2 linked regions of the Homo sapiens genome follow. The protein of the gene in region 1 purifies or fractionates together with the protein of each later gene. This does not show direct contact. Each region holds a gene or a part of one and is shown in the gene's direction. Other genes may lie near its edges.

The links. The genes of interacting proteins can lie anywhere in the genome.
Region 2: the proteins of TMED3 (region 1) and HS1BP3 purify together in Homo sapiens (affinity purification with mass spectrometry; 3 studies listed by BioGRID and IntAct, with this or other methods). This does not show direct contact.

What each region holds. Positions count from the first base shown.
Region 1 is NC_000015.10:79,306,294-79,314,131, forward strand, and holds the start of TMED3 (transmembrane emp24 domain-containing protein 3 isoform a precursor), read left to right. Parts: upstream 1-4,818; 5' UTR 4,819-4,956; coding exon 4,957-5,124; intron 5,125-7,463; coding exon 7,464-7,712; intron 7,713-7,838.
Region 2 is NC_000002.12:20,648,085-20,655,258, reverse strand, and holds the start of HS1BP3 (HCLS1-binding protein 3), read left to right. Parts: upstream 1-4,160; 5' UTR 4,161-4,195; coding exon 4,196-4,227; intron 4,228-7,174. UniProt on the Homo sapiens protein: May be a modulator of IL-2 signaling.

The sequences.
Region 1 (7,838 bases):
AGAAGCCCAAGCTCACTGTTTGAAATTATTAAAAGTCTTGATAATTGGAAGAAGAAAACCTTTGGCATCAACTCACCCAATCCCCAACCTCAACCTCTATTTTAAAGTTTCAGACGTGGACTCCCAGACAAGGACAGAATGTCAAAACATTAATGCCAGGGTTTTGGGTCTTGAATTTCATTATCTTTCCATTCCACCATGTTACAGCAAAGATAATAAGTTATATGATGTTTTTTTCTTTTTCTCTTTTTAAAAGCAGAATAAATTATACTTATTTATATAGAAACAAAGACCCAATGGGGTAAGAAGAAGTTTGAATTTTTAGCACTAGGAAAATATAATTCATGCATGGTGAGTGGGCACATGGATTATTCTCTTCCTATATTTAAGATATTAATGTTTCTTTACCTCACACTCAAGGGAGAATATGAGTCATTTCCATGAATCCAACATAATGTGTGAATTGCAAAAAGCTTTTCAATTTTTAAAGATCATTCTGTAGTCATTTAGTCACAATATTTTCCTGTCCAAAGCTTAAAGATTGAAGCATTCTTCTTCTTTTTCAAATTTAAATTTGTTTGTTTAATTCACATAAAAATTATGTATATTTGAAGTATACAACATAATGTTTTAAAATATGCATACATTGTAGAAAGGCTACATTGAGGTAATTAACATATATATTACTGCATATATCATTTTTTTTGTGGCAAGAACACTTAAAAGGTACTCTCAGTGATTTTCAAGTATAGACTACATTATTAACCATAGATGCCATGTTGTACAATAGATCTCTTGAATTTATTCCTCTTATCTAACTGAAATTTTGTAATCATTGGCCATTTCCCCAAGCCCCCCACCCCCTAGCCCCTGGTAACCACCATTATACTCTCTGCTTCTACCTCTCTAGACACCCGCCCCCCCGAGTCAGATACAAGGGCACCCAGTTGGCAGAGCCTGGATCCCATGCCCACATACCTTGGGACCCGGGAGCAGAGGGAGAGGGACTATCTGCCCCTCTTTTGCTCTGTGATGAGAGGGAGGCTGGTTTCTCACCTAGTTTGGGATTTACCCATAGGAAGGATAGTTAAATGCTTGACAGCCACAGAAACAGTTGTTCTGGGGAAGTTTGTGAGTCTCAGGAGGGCAGTGTGTGTCACCTGTCTCTGACTGGTTTGTTCAGGGAAAAGCTGGTATTGGTTATAGCTCCATGGCAACGTTAAGCGGTTTGCAAAGTTTCCATTTGCTTTAGTCAATCCACACAGCGATTGTGTTGCTTTTTTCCTTCACCATCAATTACCTGCATGAGGCATGGATAAACTTTGATTTTGTTTCAACATACTAATAGCATGCTAGGGAGTGCTCCTGTTGCATGAAGCAATGATAAAGTTCTGCTTTAGGGCACAGATGGGTCCACCTTATACTGCCCATCTCATCATAACACACGTAACTTACGATGTTTTCAATTCATGATAGGTTTATTCAGACATAACCCCATTGTAAGCCGAGGAGCATCTGTACATACTTAGAGAAGTAAAACCTAAGTGTTCAGTTAATGAAAGTCAGAATGTGAACATTCATGAGTCTCTCTTGGGTGCCCCTTCTGGACTTCTGCATTTTCCTTCCCCTTAGATATAAGCACTATTTGGATGTTTATATATCCAATTCTTGTCCTTTTATTTCTTTTTCTTGCCTAACCTTTCCTGCTAGAATTTCTGGGACAATGTTAAATAGCAGTTGTGATAGCAGGCATTTATGTCTTATTCCCAAATTTGAAGGAAAAGACATGTTTATCATTAATCATGATGTCTGCTCTAAATTTGTTACATTTTATGACATTAAGGAAGTTGTCTATTATTTCTGTTTTGCTAAGAGTTTTTATCATGAATGGATGTTGAATTTGTCACATGCTTTTTTTCCTGCATCTGTTAAGATCCTCATTTTTATTTACTGTTTTAATATTTATTATTTACTATTTTTATGTGTGTGTTTCTTTTATTTACTGTTTTAAAAGGACTTTACAGAAGTCACCCCAGGACTAAAGTGGATAGAAAACATTTTTGGTTTTTCTTTCAAGTTATCCTACCTTTAGTACCATATATCACGCAATATTTGCCATATATCATGCAATATCAAGGTTGGAAGGAACCGTAGAGGTCATACACCACTATTATCTGTCACCCAGGCTCATGAATCATCTCTGTTGTTGCTAAGTGGTTGGTTGTTCACCTGCATCTGTTCGAATATTTTCGGGTATGAAAAATGTACTATCCTTGTCCATTCTATTTTTGGAAATCTCTGGTTCCAGAAAATCATTTATTGTGTGAGCTGAAATGTGCCTCAGTGTCAGATTCATGCTTTGGTCCAAGGTTTGCCCTATGGAACATGTAGGACAAGTGTTCCCTGAGGTATGGGTAGAGGCAGTGTGTTTAGTGGGAAGCTGGTAGTCTTCAGAATTAAGCAGATCTGGGTTCACTTTCTGGCTTAGCCATTGACAAGCTGAGTGAGTCTGGATACTATAGAAGATGGCTTAACAGCCATAATTCCTTCCATCCCAGTATGACCCTCCTTTGCAATGTGACTTTGCAACTCCTCAAATCCAGAGGTAGATTCCATTTTTCCACCTCCTTGAATCTGGGCTGGCCTTTGAACTTGCTTTGGTCAACAGAATGTGGAGAAAGTCATACTGGAAAAGGTCTGAAGCTTAGGTCTCAGGGGCCTTGCTCCTTCTGCCTAGTTCCTCTTGGGATGCTGCCCTGAACCTGCCATATAAGGAAGTAATCTAGCCTATTAGATGTAAGAGGATGCTTGGAGGAGAACCGAGGTGTCCCAGCCAACAGCCTGCATGCTCTGACTAGAGCTTCTTCAATGTCAGCTCCTCCCCTGAACTTATGCAGGTGTTTTCTTGGAACTTAAATGTAAGACTTAACATTTAATCCGGAGGAATTTATTTTGATTTTTAGAGATGGGGTCTCCCTTTGTCATCCATGCTGGAGTGCAGTAGTGCAATCACAGTTCACTGTAGCCTCAGACACCTGGTGTCAAGCAATCCTCCCACCTCAGCATCCCAAGTAGCTGGGACTACAGACCCACACCACCATGCCTGGTTAATTTTTGTTTGTTTGTTTTTGTAGAAACGAGGTTTCACTATGTTGCCCAGGCTAGATTCGAACTCCTGGCTTCAAACAATCCTCCTGCCTCAGCCTCCCCAAATACTGGGATACAGGCATGAGCTATGGTGCCCAGCCCGAAATTTCTTTTTGTTAGTCTTAGCAGAGCACTCCACCTGTGCCAGGGCAATCGTGTTTTTTTTTTGTTTGTTTGTTTTGTTTTTTTGAGACGCAGTCTTGCTCTGTCGCCAGGTTGCAAACTCCACCTCCCAGGTTCAAGCAATACCCCTGCCTCCCTGCCTCAGCCTCCCGAGTAGCTGGGACTACAGGCACGCACCACCACCCCCAGCTAATTTTTGTATTTTTAGTCGAGAAGGGGTTTCACCACATTGGCCAGGATGATCTCGATCTCTTGACCTCGTGATCCACCCGCCTCAGCCTCCCAAAGTGCTGGGATTACAGGCGTGAGCCACCACTCCCGGCCAATTGTGGTTTTATATCTGTCATTTATTTCTCCACTTAGTTCATCTAGATCAGATGATTATTACTTCCATGTTTTCTATCAGTTCCTAAAAAAAAAAAAAACGTGAAATAGGACCGTGCCAGGGAAGGAAGCTTAAGGGACACTACTAAACACCTCTTCCATGCCTGTCACTGAGCCAGTCAATATTATTAACTATGTTATGCATGCATGTTATTTCCAAGCCTACAGATTGCTTTCACACATTAGCGTGTTCATCCATAGTGAATGTGGCCAGCGGAAATCTATATGGGCAGTAACATTCTTTCCTGAAGTCAAGATATACCACGTCTAGTAATGCTCTCCTGAATAAGTTATTTATTGAGTATCGACATCACAATCTACGTCTTTTCTCTTTGTTTATTGGATCACAGTGAATATAAAACTATACCTATAGTTACGATTATACAAAAGAATCTTAAGTCAGTGGTCATGGGTAAGACAGTAAACCAATTTATCTGCTTTCAGAGCTTTTAAGAAGTCAAAGTGCAAAAATGACAGTTTTGTGCAAAAAGAATTTTCAACGAGCCTGACAGCCAAAATATACCTGAAGTCGCTGCGAGACTTTACTTGGATTTTCATGAGATCGTTTGTGTGTGAGCACGCTCGTGTTTTTCCCAGAGCAGGTGTAATGATGGGTCTTTACTTACTCTCCCCACTCCCCACCCCCTTCGCACACTCTTTCACCTTGGGAAGGGTATGGGAATGAAGAAAGGAGTGTTAATCGGGTTCCCAGCGTTCCCTTATCTTTCACCTAGCTCCCTAACTACTGTGGATGTTAGGTTTGGGCACACCCATTTCAAGACAAGGAGACTGGTTCTCGAGGGAAGTGTGAGACTGAAGTTACAGAGCCTGTCAAAAGCGGAGCCTTATAGAGGGAGTAAAATCCCACGTGCTTCGTGCTGCAGCAGCTGGAGGGTGGACCTGGGTCGACCTGGGGGGATGCTCAGCCCTGCGGGTCCGGGAGCGCGCAGAACAGCGGGGAGGGCTTCTCCCTCTTCTGGGTAGGGGCGCGCTAGGTGGAGCCCCACCTCCCCTCCGCGGAGACCCACCCTCCGAGCCGGGAGAGGCGTTGCGGGGGGGTGGGGGGGGCGTGTCCCCTGGCGCAGCGCGGCCAGCGCGCACGCGCAGCGGGCGGAAGGTGCCCGGGCCCACTTTGAGCGCGCGGCTGCGCACTGAGCCGCCGGCCCTCCCGGAAGCGCAGAGCTCCGCTGGTGCCACGTCTATCCCCTTACATCCTCCTAGGACCCGGTCGGTAGTCGTCGCCCCAGCCCGCCGGGGGCGCAGCGCCCGAGCCGCGGCCCTCGAGACGGGACCGAGAGCATCATGGGCAGCACTGTCCCGCGCTCCGCCTCCGTGCTGCTTCTGCTGCTGCTCCTGCGCCGGGCCGAGCAGCCCTGCGGGGCCGAGCTCACCTTCGAGCTGCCGGACAACGCCAAGCAGTGCTTCCACGAGGAGGTGGAGCAGGGCGTGAAGTTCTCCCTGGATTACCAGGTGAGGCCGGGCGCCCGGCAGCGCTCCCTTCTCCCTCCACTCCCAGGTCTCACCTGGACACTGGCTAGCCCCTGACTGGAGGCGCTCGAATTAGCCACAGGCTACAGGGAGGCTGCATGGGGTGGGAGTCCCCGGAGACCAGTTGACTTCCCCGTGAGGAGGAAGGTTTGGGTCATCAGGGCCCACCCGAGACGAGCCTGGCCAGCGAGGAGGTAGTCAGCGCCGCAGGTGCGAGCCCGGGATGGGGACGCCAGGGCGGATCCCGCAGCCTGGGGAGCTGGCCAAAGAGATATCCGCAGGCCCCCGAGACACTAACCAACGGCAGTTCTGATCGGCTGGACACAGGCTCTCTAACCCCAGTCTCTTAGACCACCTTGTGCCTTCGAGTACTGAAAAATGGCAGCAAGAGGAAGTGGGCTCATAGTTTTAGTTTATTCCTCCCCTCTCCAGCGTTTAAAGTTGGAGTGAGGTGAGGGCAGCAGAAGTGAGAATGGGCACTTTGGAAAGGAGGGATCAGTGCAGCCATTGAGGCCTGGCGGTGTTTACAAGGAGCGGTGTGGCTGCAAGACTTGGCTCTTGCCATATGGCTTAGAAAAGCTCAGTTCCTGTATTCCTGTCTCCTTTGAGAGATCCCGTGGCCCACAGGTGACAGGAGCAGGTCTTGAGTGAGTAGTCTGCCCCGATATTTAGTGAGCAGGTCTAGGGTTGGGGGCCAAGTGGGCATCATACTCAGACAGCTATCTGCTTGTGGACGCATGCTGATAGGCACTTCAGAAATGAGGGGCCACGGGCAGCAGGAATGGGGGCAAGCTATTTGACCAGTTCCTCTGTGGTTAGAGGCACTGAAGGAAGCTTGCGCTTGGAGACAACTTCTATGTGGTAGTCTCAGTCACTGATTTGTCCACTTTCAGGTCTTTGTGGACAACATGCAAATTGTGACTGGGTTAACATGGGCAACCTAGGTGCAATGACAAAAAGAATGATAATTCTGTGGTTGCAGGGACCTCAGATGTCATCTGGTCACTGCCAGGGCGGAAATCCCTTGTCAAAGTGTGTCCAGCCTGGGTTTAAACACACTTAGCAACAGGATACTCACTGCTTTTTGCAAAGCTTGCTGAGCAGGACTAGTAACTTTTGTCCGGACAAAGAGGCCATTTAAATTTGGAAGCAGATGGAGGCCATTGACCGTGTCCTTTGATGGATCTTGGTTATAGCCATTGCCTACCTGTGAGATTTTGCTTTATGTGGGTCTTATTTTTCTTATGTTACAAGGAGAGTTTGAACTAAATGATTCCCAAAGACTCTTCCACCGCTGACACTCAGAAATTCCATGAATACTTCGATCAATATTTTTCTTCTCCTTGCATTCAGTCATTAATAATATATTGTTAATAGCTACTTGACCCATTCAGCAAGCCAAGAATGACCCTTGCTGGTGGGGGGAGGGGGAACACCTGTCTGTTATTGGAACGGAGAAGCAGGAGGTGCAGCATGCATGCTCTAGGGTGGCCCCCAAATCAGATCCCACATCTCCACTGCAACCCCAGGGGGTTAGTTTGCAGTCTGACGATTGTCCAGTAATTGGCTGGCACTTTTGGGGCCCTTGCTAAATTTATGTTGGACACCGTGCTAAACACTTTAGGTGTGATAACTTATTGACTCCTCACTTCATGGATAAAGACATATCCTCAGAGAATAAAGTAACTTGTCTAGGGTCACATGGCTAATGAGTGGCAGTGCCCTAAATCAGTGATTTGCTGTGTGTCTTGTGTTAAGTATTGAACAAAGATAAAGAATCGGTGGCATCTAGTTGCATTGGAATAGTTTCTTGGACATCCCTCCTCATCTTGCTCTTGATTTCGGGAAGCTTTATCAGCACCATCTCAGGAAGAGCAGTTATCCTGGGGTATGTTCATTCATGCTTCAGAATAGTGCAATAGGTAAATGTTTAGGCACTGGAACCAAAAGCTCTCAAGGCAGATCTCATCTCACCACTTTCTCTTGTGTAACCTTAGGGAATTTACTTAACCTTGGAACCTCAGTTTCTTCTTCTGTAAAATGGAAAGGATTAGGCTCATTGAAACCCTGCAGAGCAAACTTGGGAGTCAGGCAGGCATAGATTCAAATCTTAGCCCTTTCACTTTCAAGCAGTGTGACCACAGCCAATTTATTTAACCTTGCTCAGCCTTAGTAAAATGAGAAGTGGCGTAGCACCTGCCTTAGAAAGTTTTGAAGATGAAGTGACAGAAATGTTTGTAGAGTCTGATCACAGTGTCTGGTTGGCATTTGGTAAGTGGTGGTTGCTCCTTTGATAACAGCAATTTTTTTATGGTTGTCAGGTCATCACTGGAGGCCACTACGATGTTGACTGCTATGTAGAGGACCCCCAGGGGAACACCATCTACAGAGAAACGAAGAAGCAGTACGACAGCTTCACGTACCGGGCTGAAGTCAAGGGCGTTTATCAGTTTTGCTTCAGTAATGAGTTTTCCACCTTCTCTCACAAGACCGTCTACTTTGACTTTCAAGTGGGCGATGAGCCTCCCATTCTCCCAGACATGGGGAACAGGGTCACAGCTCTCACCCAGGTGAGTGAACATTAGCAGTTCGGGGCTGCTGAACCCCCTAGCGTGTTCCTCTTCATTGGCCTCTGTCTAGGCTGGTGGTGGGAGTCATCATCCATCCAGCTCCCAGTCTGGAAGTCTCAGGGTTGG
Region 2 (7,174 bases), on another chromosome or scaffold:
CTTCTCACCAGCTCCTCAGATACGCTCTGGTTCTATCAAGACGTACTAGGCTGAGCATGGTGGCTCACACCTGTAATCCTAGCACTTTGGGAGGCTCAGCAGGGCAGATTGCTCGAGCCCAGGAGTTCAAGGCCAGTCTGGGCAACATAGGGAAACCCTGTCTCTACAAAAAACACAAAAATTAGCTGGGCATGGTGGCACACACCTGTGATCCCAGCTACTTGGGAGGCTGAGGTGGGAGGATCACCTAAGCCCAAGGAGGTTGAGGCTACAGTGAGCTGTGATCATGCCACTGCGACAGAATGAGACCCTGTCTCAAAAAAAAAAAAAAAAAAAAAAAAAGACAAGCTGCCTTCCTAGTACACATTTTACCTCTTTTCTTCCTCCTCCTCAGTCATCCCTGCATCCCCTATGGAGCAGTTTTTATGTCAGGCATTATGTAAGTACTTTACAACTACACCAACAGGAAATCCACTGCAGAAAACCCCCACTTAGAGTGATTTAGGCATTTATGCAAGGAGAACTTTGTAGAAAAAGTCCAGGGCGTGTATGCAAGCTCATATGCCATCAGCTCCCCAGGCTTGTTCATCCCTAACATGGTAGACTCCAAACTCATGTCTGTGCCTCCTGCTCCCATGATGGCTGCTGTGTCTCCAACACTGTATCCCCTTCCCAGGTAGAAGACAAGGAAGGAGCGAAGAGTTTTCTCCTAGCAAGATAAATCCTCCACAGGGACTTAAGTATATGTGGTCAGTTATGTCACATGGCCCCTTGTAACTGAAATGGGACATGTGTTTTACTTCTCCAGCCTCTATGGTAATAAAAACCAGGAAGAAGGGGGTTGTGAATGGCTTCCGGTTAGCTCATCACCAATGCCTGCCATACATTTCATCTTGTTTCAGTCTCATTTTACCTCATGTAATTCAAGCAATGTTATGATTTAAAGGTTTCTGTTACGTGCATTTCACCAGTGAGAAAATCAAGTCTCAAAAAAATAATACCTACTTTTTACAACCCAGGTCTGCCATCACCTCCTCCTGGCAGAATTCTTTGTATGCCCAACCCTAGGCTGAGTTAGTTATGTGCCCTCCTCTGTGCACCATAGCACCCTAGGCGTGCATCCTTGTTGAAATCTCCAGCTGTCCTAGAGTGGCCTGTGAGCCCCTGCAGTGGGCTGTGAGCCCCACAGGATAAGGCTCTGTAGCCCCCAGGCCTGGGGAGATAACAGGCCTGGAGCTGTACCTATGAGTGTTTGCTGAGTGACAAGCAAGGTGGTGGCCCTGCTCCATGTGGATGTGCCCAGACCCTGGAGCTCTAAAGTATCACATTAGGGAACAGAGACAAATTATAAGGTCCCAGAAGACCCGAGCCACCATGGGAAACGTTGGTGCATGGCTCAGCCAGAGTTCAGAGCACCCCCTGCAGGCTGCGGGTGTCTCTCAGTGACCACAGTGTCCTGAGGCCCAGTGACTTCCTGGGTGGAAACTGAGGCCTGGAGTGTTCCTCCCAGGGCAGTGAGAAAGAGAGAAATAGAAAATCCTTTGCAATGTGGTTTGTGTTACCGCAGCTTCAGCCATGGAAGGGGCTCCTTGAATTAAACAGGAAGCAGAAAATATCAGATTTAGATCCCACATTCCATGCATTGTATACAATTACGCGCTGGAGCCATAGAGGGGCACGTGGGACCCACAGAGGCAGAAAATGGGATTGCTGTTGGGAATGGGGTCGTTCTTTCATGGGAAACCAGTTGCATTCTTGACAGGTGGGCCGAGTCTTCCTGAGGTGCACACTTCACAACCCCAGGGGCACAGGTGAGGCCCTCTCATTTGCTTACAAGGCATTGGTGACAGACATGCTACCAGCTCCCACAATGATGGAGAGTCCCCTTCTCTGCAGCCCCCCAACACCGCTGCATATCTCTGGATTGTAGACCATCCTTGGTGGGCTCACCCCAACTCTCAGGCTCAACAGCCTCCTTTTTACCCATGACTCCTATGTCAGTCTCCAGCCCAGGTCGGCTTCCTGAGGCCCAGGGCCATAAACCCAATCGCATCAATAGGTCCAGCCCTTCAAACACTGCCTGTCTGAAACAGAACCCATCATCCTACCAAAAATATGCTCCTTCTCCAGGTGCCCTGCCACAGAGAATGATACCAATGTCCAGCCACTCACAAGAGCCAAACCATAGTGGTATCTTATCTCTTCCCGCCCACACCCATTGGATTCCCAAGTCTTGACCAACTCCTTCTCCTAAGGCCCTCTTACCCGTCCCCTCTTCTCCACCTGGGTGGCCATCACCCTAGTTCATGGGACCATTGTCTCTTGTCTGGATTGTTCTGCAGTCCAGCTCATCTTCATACCTTCAACATGCTCCAAAACCCTGCCCACGCCCTAGCTGGCCCAGCCACTCCTATGTCCCTGACCCTCTGATGGCGCTGTGTTGGCCTCAGGATCAGGCAAAGCCCTGGCCTTGGTGCACTAGGCTGTCCACACCCTGGCTCCTGCTGGCCTCTTCCCCCTGTTCCCTGGTGTTCCTATCCTGTCGCTAGGGCTTTGCACGTGACATTCCTTCTAATCTATTCTATCCATATTTCTTCAGGTTTTCCCTTGGACTTCAGCTCCTTTAGAAAGCCTTTCCAGACCCCCACCCACTCCCCATGTAGGAGGGCAAAGAAGTCCACTGAAGGCATCTAAAGTGTCTTATTCACTGTGTTTCTGTCTGTTGGATAAATGTGAGTGCAATGGTGACTGCTCGACTGCCTGGCACTACACTCAGACTCCTGGAATGCTGAAGCCTATACTGCTTTCTGTCCAGACCCTGAACTCCCTTTCTCTAAAGTAGGGCATGCCAATTTAAACAAAACACGGAGGACCATTTGCAGCCATGAACACGGCCCTGCAGACGGACAGGCCGATGAGCAGCAGAGCAGACAGGGGTTCCCGCCATCATCCCAGCTCTTCACTGCAGCCTTCAAGGGTCTCCCTCAGAACTTTCATTCATTGTCATACTTCATTCATGATTGCTCATCTTGCCTATAAACAAATCTGAGACAAATAATAAGGCATATCAATGTCCGTATTTATTCAAGAGATACATTGGGGAAAGTCATTTTTCAAAATCTTTTACTGTAGGATTTCTTCACTAAAATCTGTAAAAACTGGTAGATATTGTTGGTGATGCTGGTGGCGGTGGTTGATAGGCTCAGGAAACATGGCTGACATCGCCCTGCCGTGAATTCTGGTATAGTTAAGCCCAGCTTCTCTTTCTTTTTGTCACTGGGGCTCTGGGTGGAGGGAGTAACAGAACAGGGGCAGCAGTTTGCACCTTCTGCTGGCCCTGTTTGCAGACTCAGCTTTTCTTTCCCTGGGCTACGTTGGCAGGTGATACGATCTCTCTGTTCCTCACCCCATGGAGAGGTGAATCTAAAATGAGTGGGTCTGTTAGGGTCTGCATGTCTGTACGTTCCCCTTCTGAGGGGAACTGGCTCCTGGACCCCGTTGCCCTGCTCCAGCTGGGGACCCAAGTGCAGCCATCCCAGGCAGGCCCGGCCCCGGGAGGCCTCCACCAGGGCTCTGCCAAGCAGCAGAGGCTGCCTCTCTAAAGATCCCCTGTCGGGAGAGTGCCTGCCATTTATGGAGCGGGCAGGCAGTAGGAACCAGATAGGCGAGCTAGCTGGAGGCAGCAAGCTCAAGGGGACTGGGCTGCTGCGTGGCGTTCACTGTGCAGCTTGAAGAAGACCCCACGAAGCCTGGACAGAGCCCCAGCTTGGTAAATATTTGTTGACCGATCGGTTGAATGAAATGGTCTTGGGGCAGAGGGGGAGTGGTTTTGTAATGGGGACTGGCGGCGGAAACAGCAGAGTCCCGTCTCTCTAACGGCTAAACTTTAGCGCAAAACAGACACACCGATTAAGGTTCACCGTGTGCCAGGGCCAGGCTGGGCTTCTTCTAGGTGGTTGCGGCGGGCGCGGCTCAGCCTGGGTGCTCCGGAAGCTCCGAGCAGCGCAGGCCGACGGCGACCGTGCGGGACCCGCCCAGCCGCGCTTCCGCCCCGCCTCTGGCCACAGGCGCGAACTGCGCGGCCGCTGCCACCAGGGGGCAGGCCAGGGCAGCGGGAGGCAGGGCGGGGACGCGGTGACGCGGGCACTGCCGGGTCCCGTGACTGCGCGCCCCGCCCGGAGTCCCCGCCGCCGTCATGCAGTCCCCGGCGGTGCTCGTCACCTCCAGGTGAGCCAGACCCCCGCGCCCCACACCGCACAGCTCGCAGTCCGGGGCGCCCGGGCGGAGAGGCGGGGGGAGGCCGCCGCCTCCTAGGCCAGGGACCTGGTGCAGGTCTCCCCAGCGCCCTCGGTGGCTTATCCGGGCTGGGCCCCTGCACCGCCCTGCAGGAGAGGTGGCGACCCCGATTTACAGATGAGGAAACCGAGGCCCTCTGGAGGGTAGAGAACTAGCCAAGGACAGCGGGAGCCCTGGGACTGACTGGTTCAGTGCAGGCGGGCGCAGTGGGGACTCTGCTCTCCTTTCCTACCGCCTTGGGTTCTTCTCTTTTGAGCCCGAAAATCTAGTTCCCCATCCTTTCAGAGCTCCCTGAGTCCCAGGCCCGGTGCTGGGCACTGGGGACAGAGGCGAATCAGACAAGCTCGCCCTGCAGGGGGCTGCAGCGGAGAGGGGGTGATGCCAGCAGCGGGTAGTAAGCTCAGGTTGCCATGGGAACACAGTACAGGGCAGGAACCCGGTTTCTGGGAGGATGAGTTTGATGAGAGACCAGGGAGAGGTCGTTGCTGCTTGCGAGGCAGCTCAGGAGAGCGCAAGTTACAGCAAAAGCCTTGGAGGGGTCCAGGCGGAGGATGCAGAATGGGTCGGCCCTGATCGAGACCTGGAGGACCCAGCCCAAGGTGGATCCTGGCAAGGCTGGGAGGCACGTGCTTTTACTTCTTTCCGCCTTTAAAACGCTGTAAAGTGATTTACTTCAAATATTTTCATACACTTCACCCTTGCTCTCCCTACACAAAGTCTTAGGCTAAGATGCCAATTTATGACATAAATGAACGTGTTACCCAGCCAACTGTTGATCTTCCAGTTGTAATCAGGAATTCCCCGTGACTTCAGGTCTAGAAAGGTATGATTCCTTTTGTAAACCCTGATGTCGGAGGCTGCTTGGTCTTTCATGATCAAGTGTGGTTACAGTTGTATCTTCATGGGCAGAAGAGGTTTCCCTACTGCCACTTACGTCACCTCCTCTCACCAAGCCTCAGTTTCCTTTTCTGTGAATTGGAGGTTTCAGATTGGCAGGCATGAGCAACGTCAGTAGTATATGCCCCTCAGCCATGTGCAGATGGATGGGGTGTGACTTTGGTGCTGGGTGCTTGGGATGGGGTGGGTGGCTTCCCTCCCTGCCCCGCTGCACAGCCTGGACGTGGCTTGTTAACAGATGTGGGGGCGCTGGCGGTGGTAAGGCCACATGAGTCAGGCTCATTTCTTGCTGAGGGCACCAGCACACCCAAGGATCTTGCCTGCAGGGTGAGTCCAAACGCCTTAGCCCAGCAGCAAGGCCGGCCCTTCCCAGTCGCACCCCAGCTCCTCTTTCCAGCCCGATCTCCTCCCACATGTCATTGCCACATGCACTCAAGCTTGAATTCAGCCAGAAGGTGTTTATCGAGAGCCTTCTCTGTACCGGGTACTGGCCCTAGTTCTAGGAGACAAACAAGTCCCTCTCGTAGAGCTTTAATGAGGGCACAGGCCCAGTGGGCAAATCTACGACATGTCAGGGATGATACATGCTATGAAGGAAAACAAAACAGTGGGGGCAACAGAGTGGTAGGAGGCATGCATGCTGTTTTCTATGGTGTGGTAAAGAGGCATCTTTCTGATGGAGTGGCGCCTGGACAGATCCCGGACAAGCTCCATGAGGGAGAGAGCCATGAAAAAGAAATCTTGGAAAAGTGTGTACTGGGAGGACAGGACAGCAGGAGCCAGGGTCCCGAGGCTGGTATGCTGGAGTGGAGTGAGCCCAGGGAGAGTGTTAGGTGATGCGGTGAAGAGGCAAGCTTGGGAGTGAAGGATGATCAGGAAAGGCCGAGAAGGCTGTGGAGGGGCCATCAGATTTAATTTCAAGTGCAATAGGGCCCAACTTCTGGTTTATAGAGATCCTTTGGCTGCTATGCTGAGCATGGGCAGTGGCCGAGCTGAGCATTCAGGACAGGCTTGTAGGTTTCCATGTAGAGCCGGTGGTGGCTTGGCCCGGGGTGATGGCGGCCGTGAGGGTGAGAAATGTTTGGGTTCTCGATATATTTTGAAGATTGAGCTTTCAGGTTTGCTGATGCTTGGATATGGGGTGTGAGAACAAGAAGAGAAGTTAAGACTAACGGCAAGTCTCTCAGCCTAAGCTGCTGGAAGAATGAGGCTGCCCTTTAGCAGGCTTGGGGAGAGGTAGAAGCAGCATTTGTGTAGACAGGTGAGTTTTGAGAAGCTCGTTGACAGCCCAGTGGGGATGTCAGGCAGCTGCAGCTGGAAGGAGGCTGGCTGTGAGGGGAGAGTGAGCTAAAGATGGGAGTTGGGGAGCCATTGGCTCGGAAATGGTATTTAAAGCCTGGAGCCTGGATGAGATCACCTGGGGAGGGGTACAGTGAGAGGAAGAAGGAGGGTGCTCTGGATGCTATCAAGGGGAACCATCCAAAGCAGTTCCTCTCCTCCTGTTTGAGCAAGAGTGGCCAGGGTGGGCAGAGAAGAACCAAGAGTGAGGGGGTGCTCCAGCCACCAGTGAAGGCAGAGCTTGAAGGAGGGGAGTGGCTGACTGTGCCCACTGCTGCTGACAAGTCAGACCAGAGGAGAAATGAGGATTCACCTTTGGATTTAACCACATGGAGGTCGCAGATGACCTGGGCGTGGGCAGTTTGTTGCATGATGAGGACCAAAGTCTGGCTGGAAAGGGTTCAAGATCAAACAGGAGGAGAGGAACCCATGAATATGGGGCCCTCTGTTGAGGAGTTCTGCTGGAAAGGGCAGGAGGGAAACGGAGCAAGGGGAATGTCGGGTCAAAGCACAGCTTTTGTTACATGAGTGGTCAGAGCATGGTTGCATGCTAATAAGCGTGGGCCAGTAAGGAAGGAAAATCGATGGTGCGAAAAAGAGGGGTGAGCTGCAGCAGCTATGTCCTTCAGTAGGTGGGAGGGCC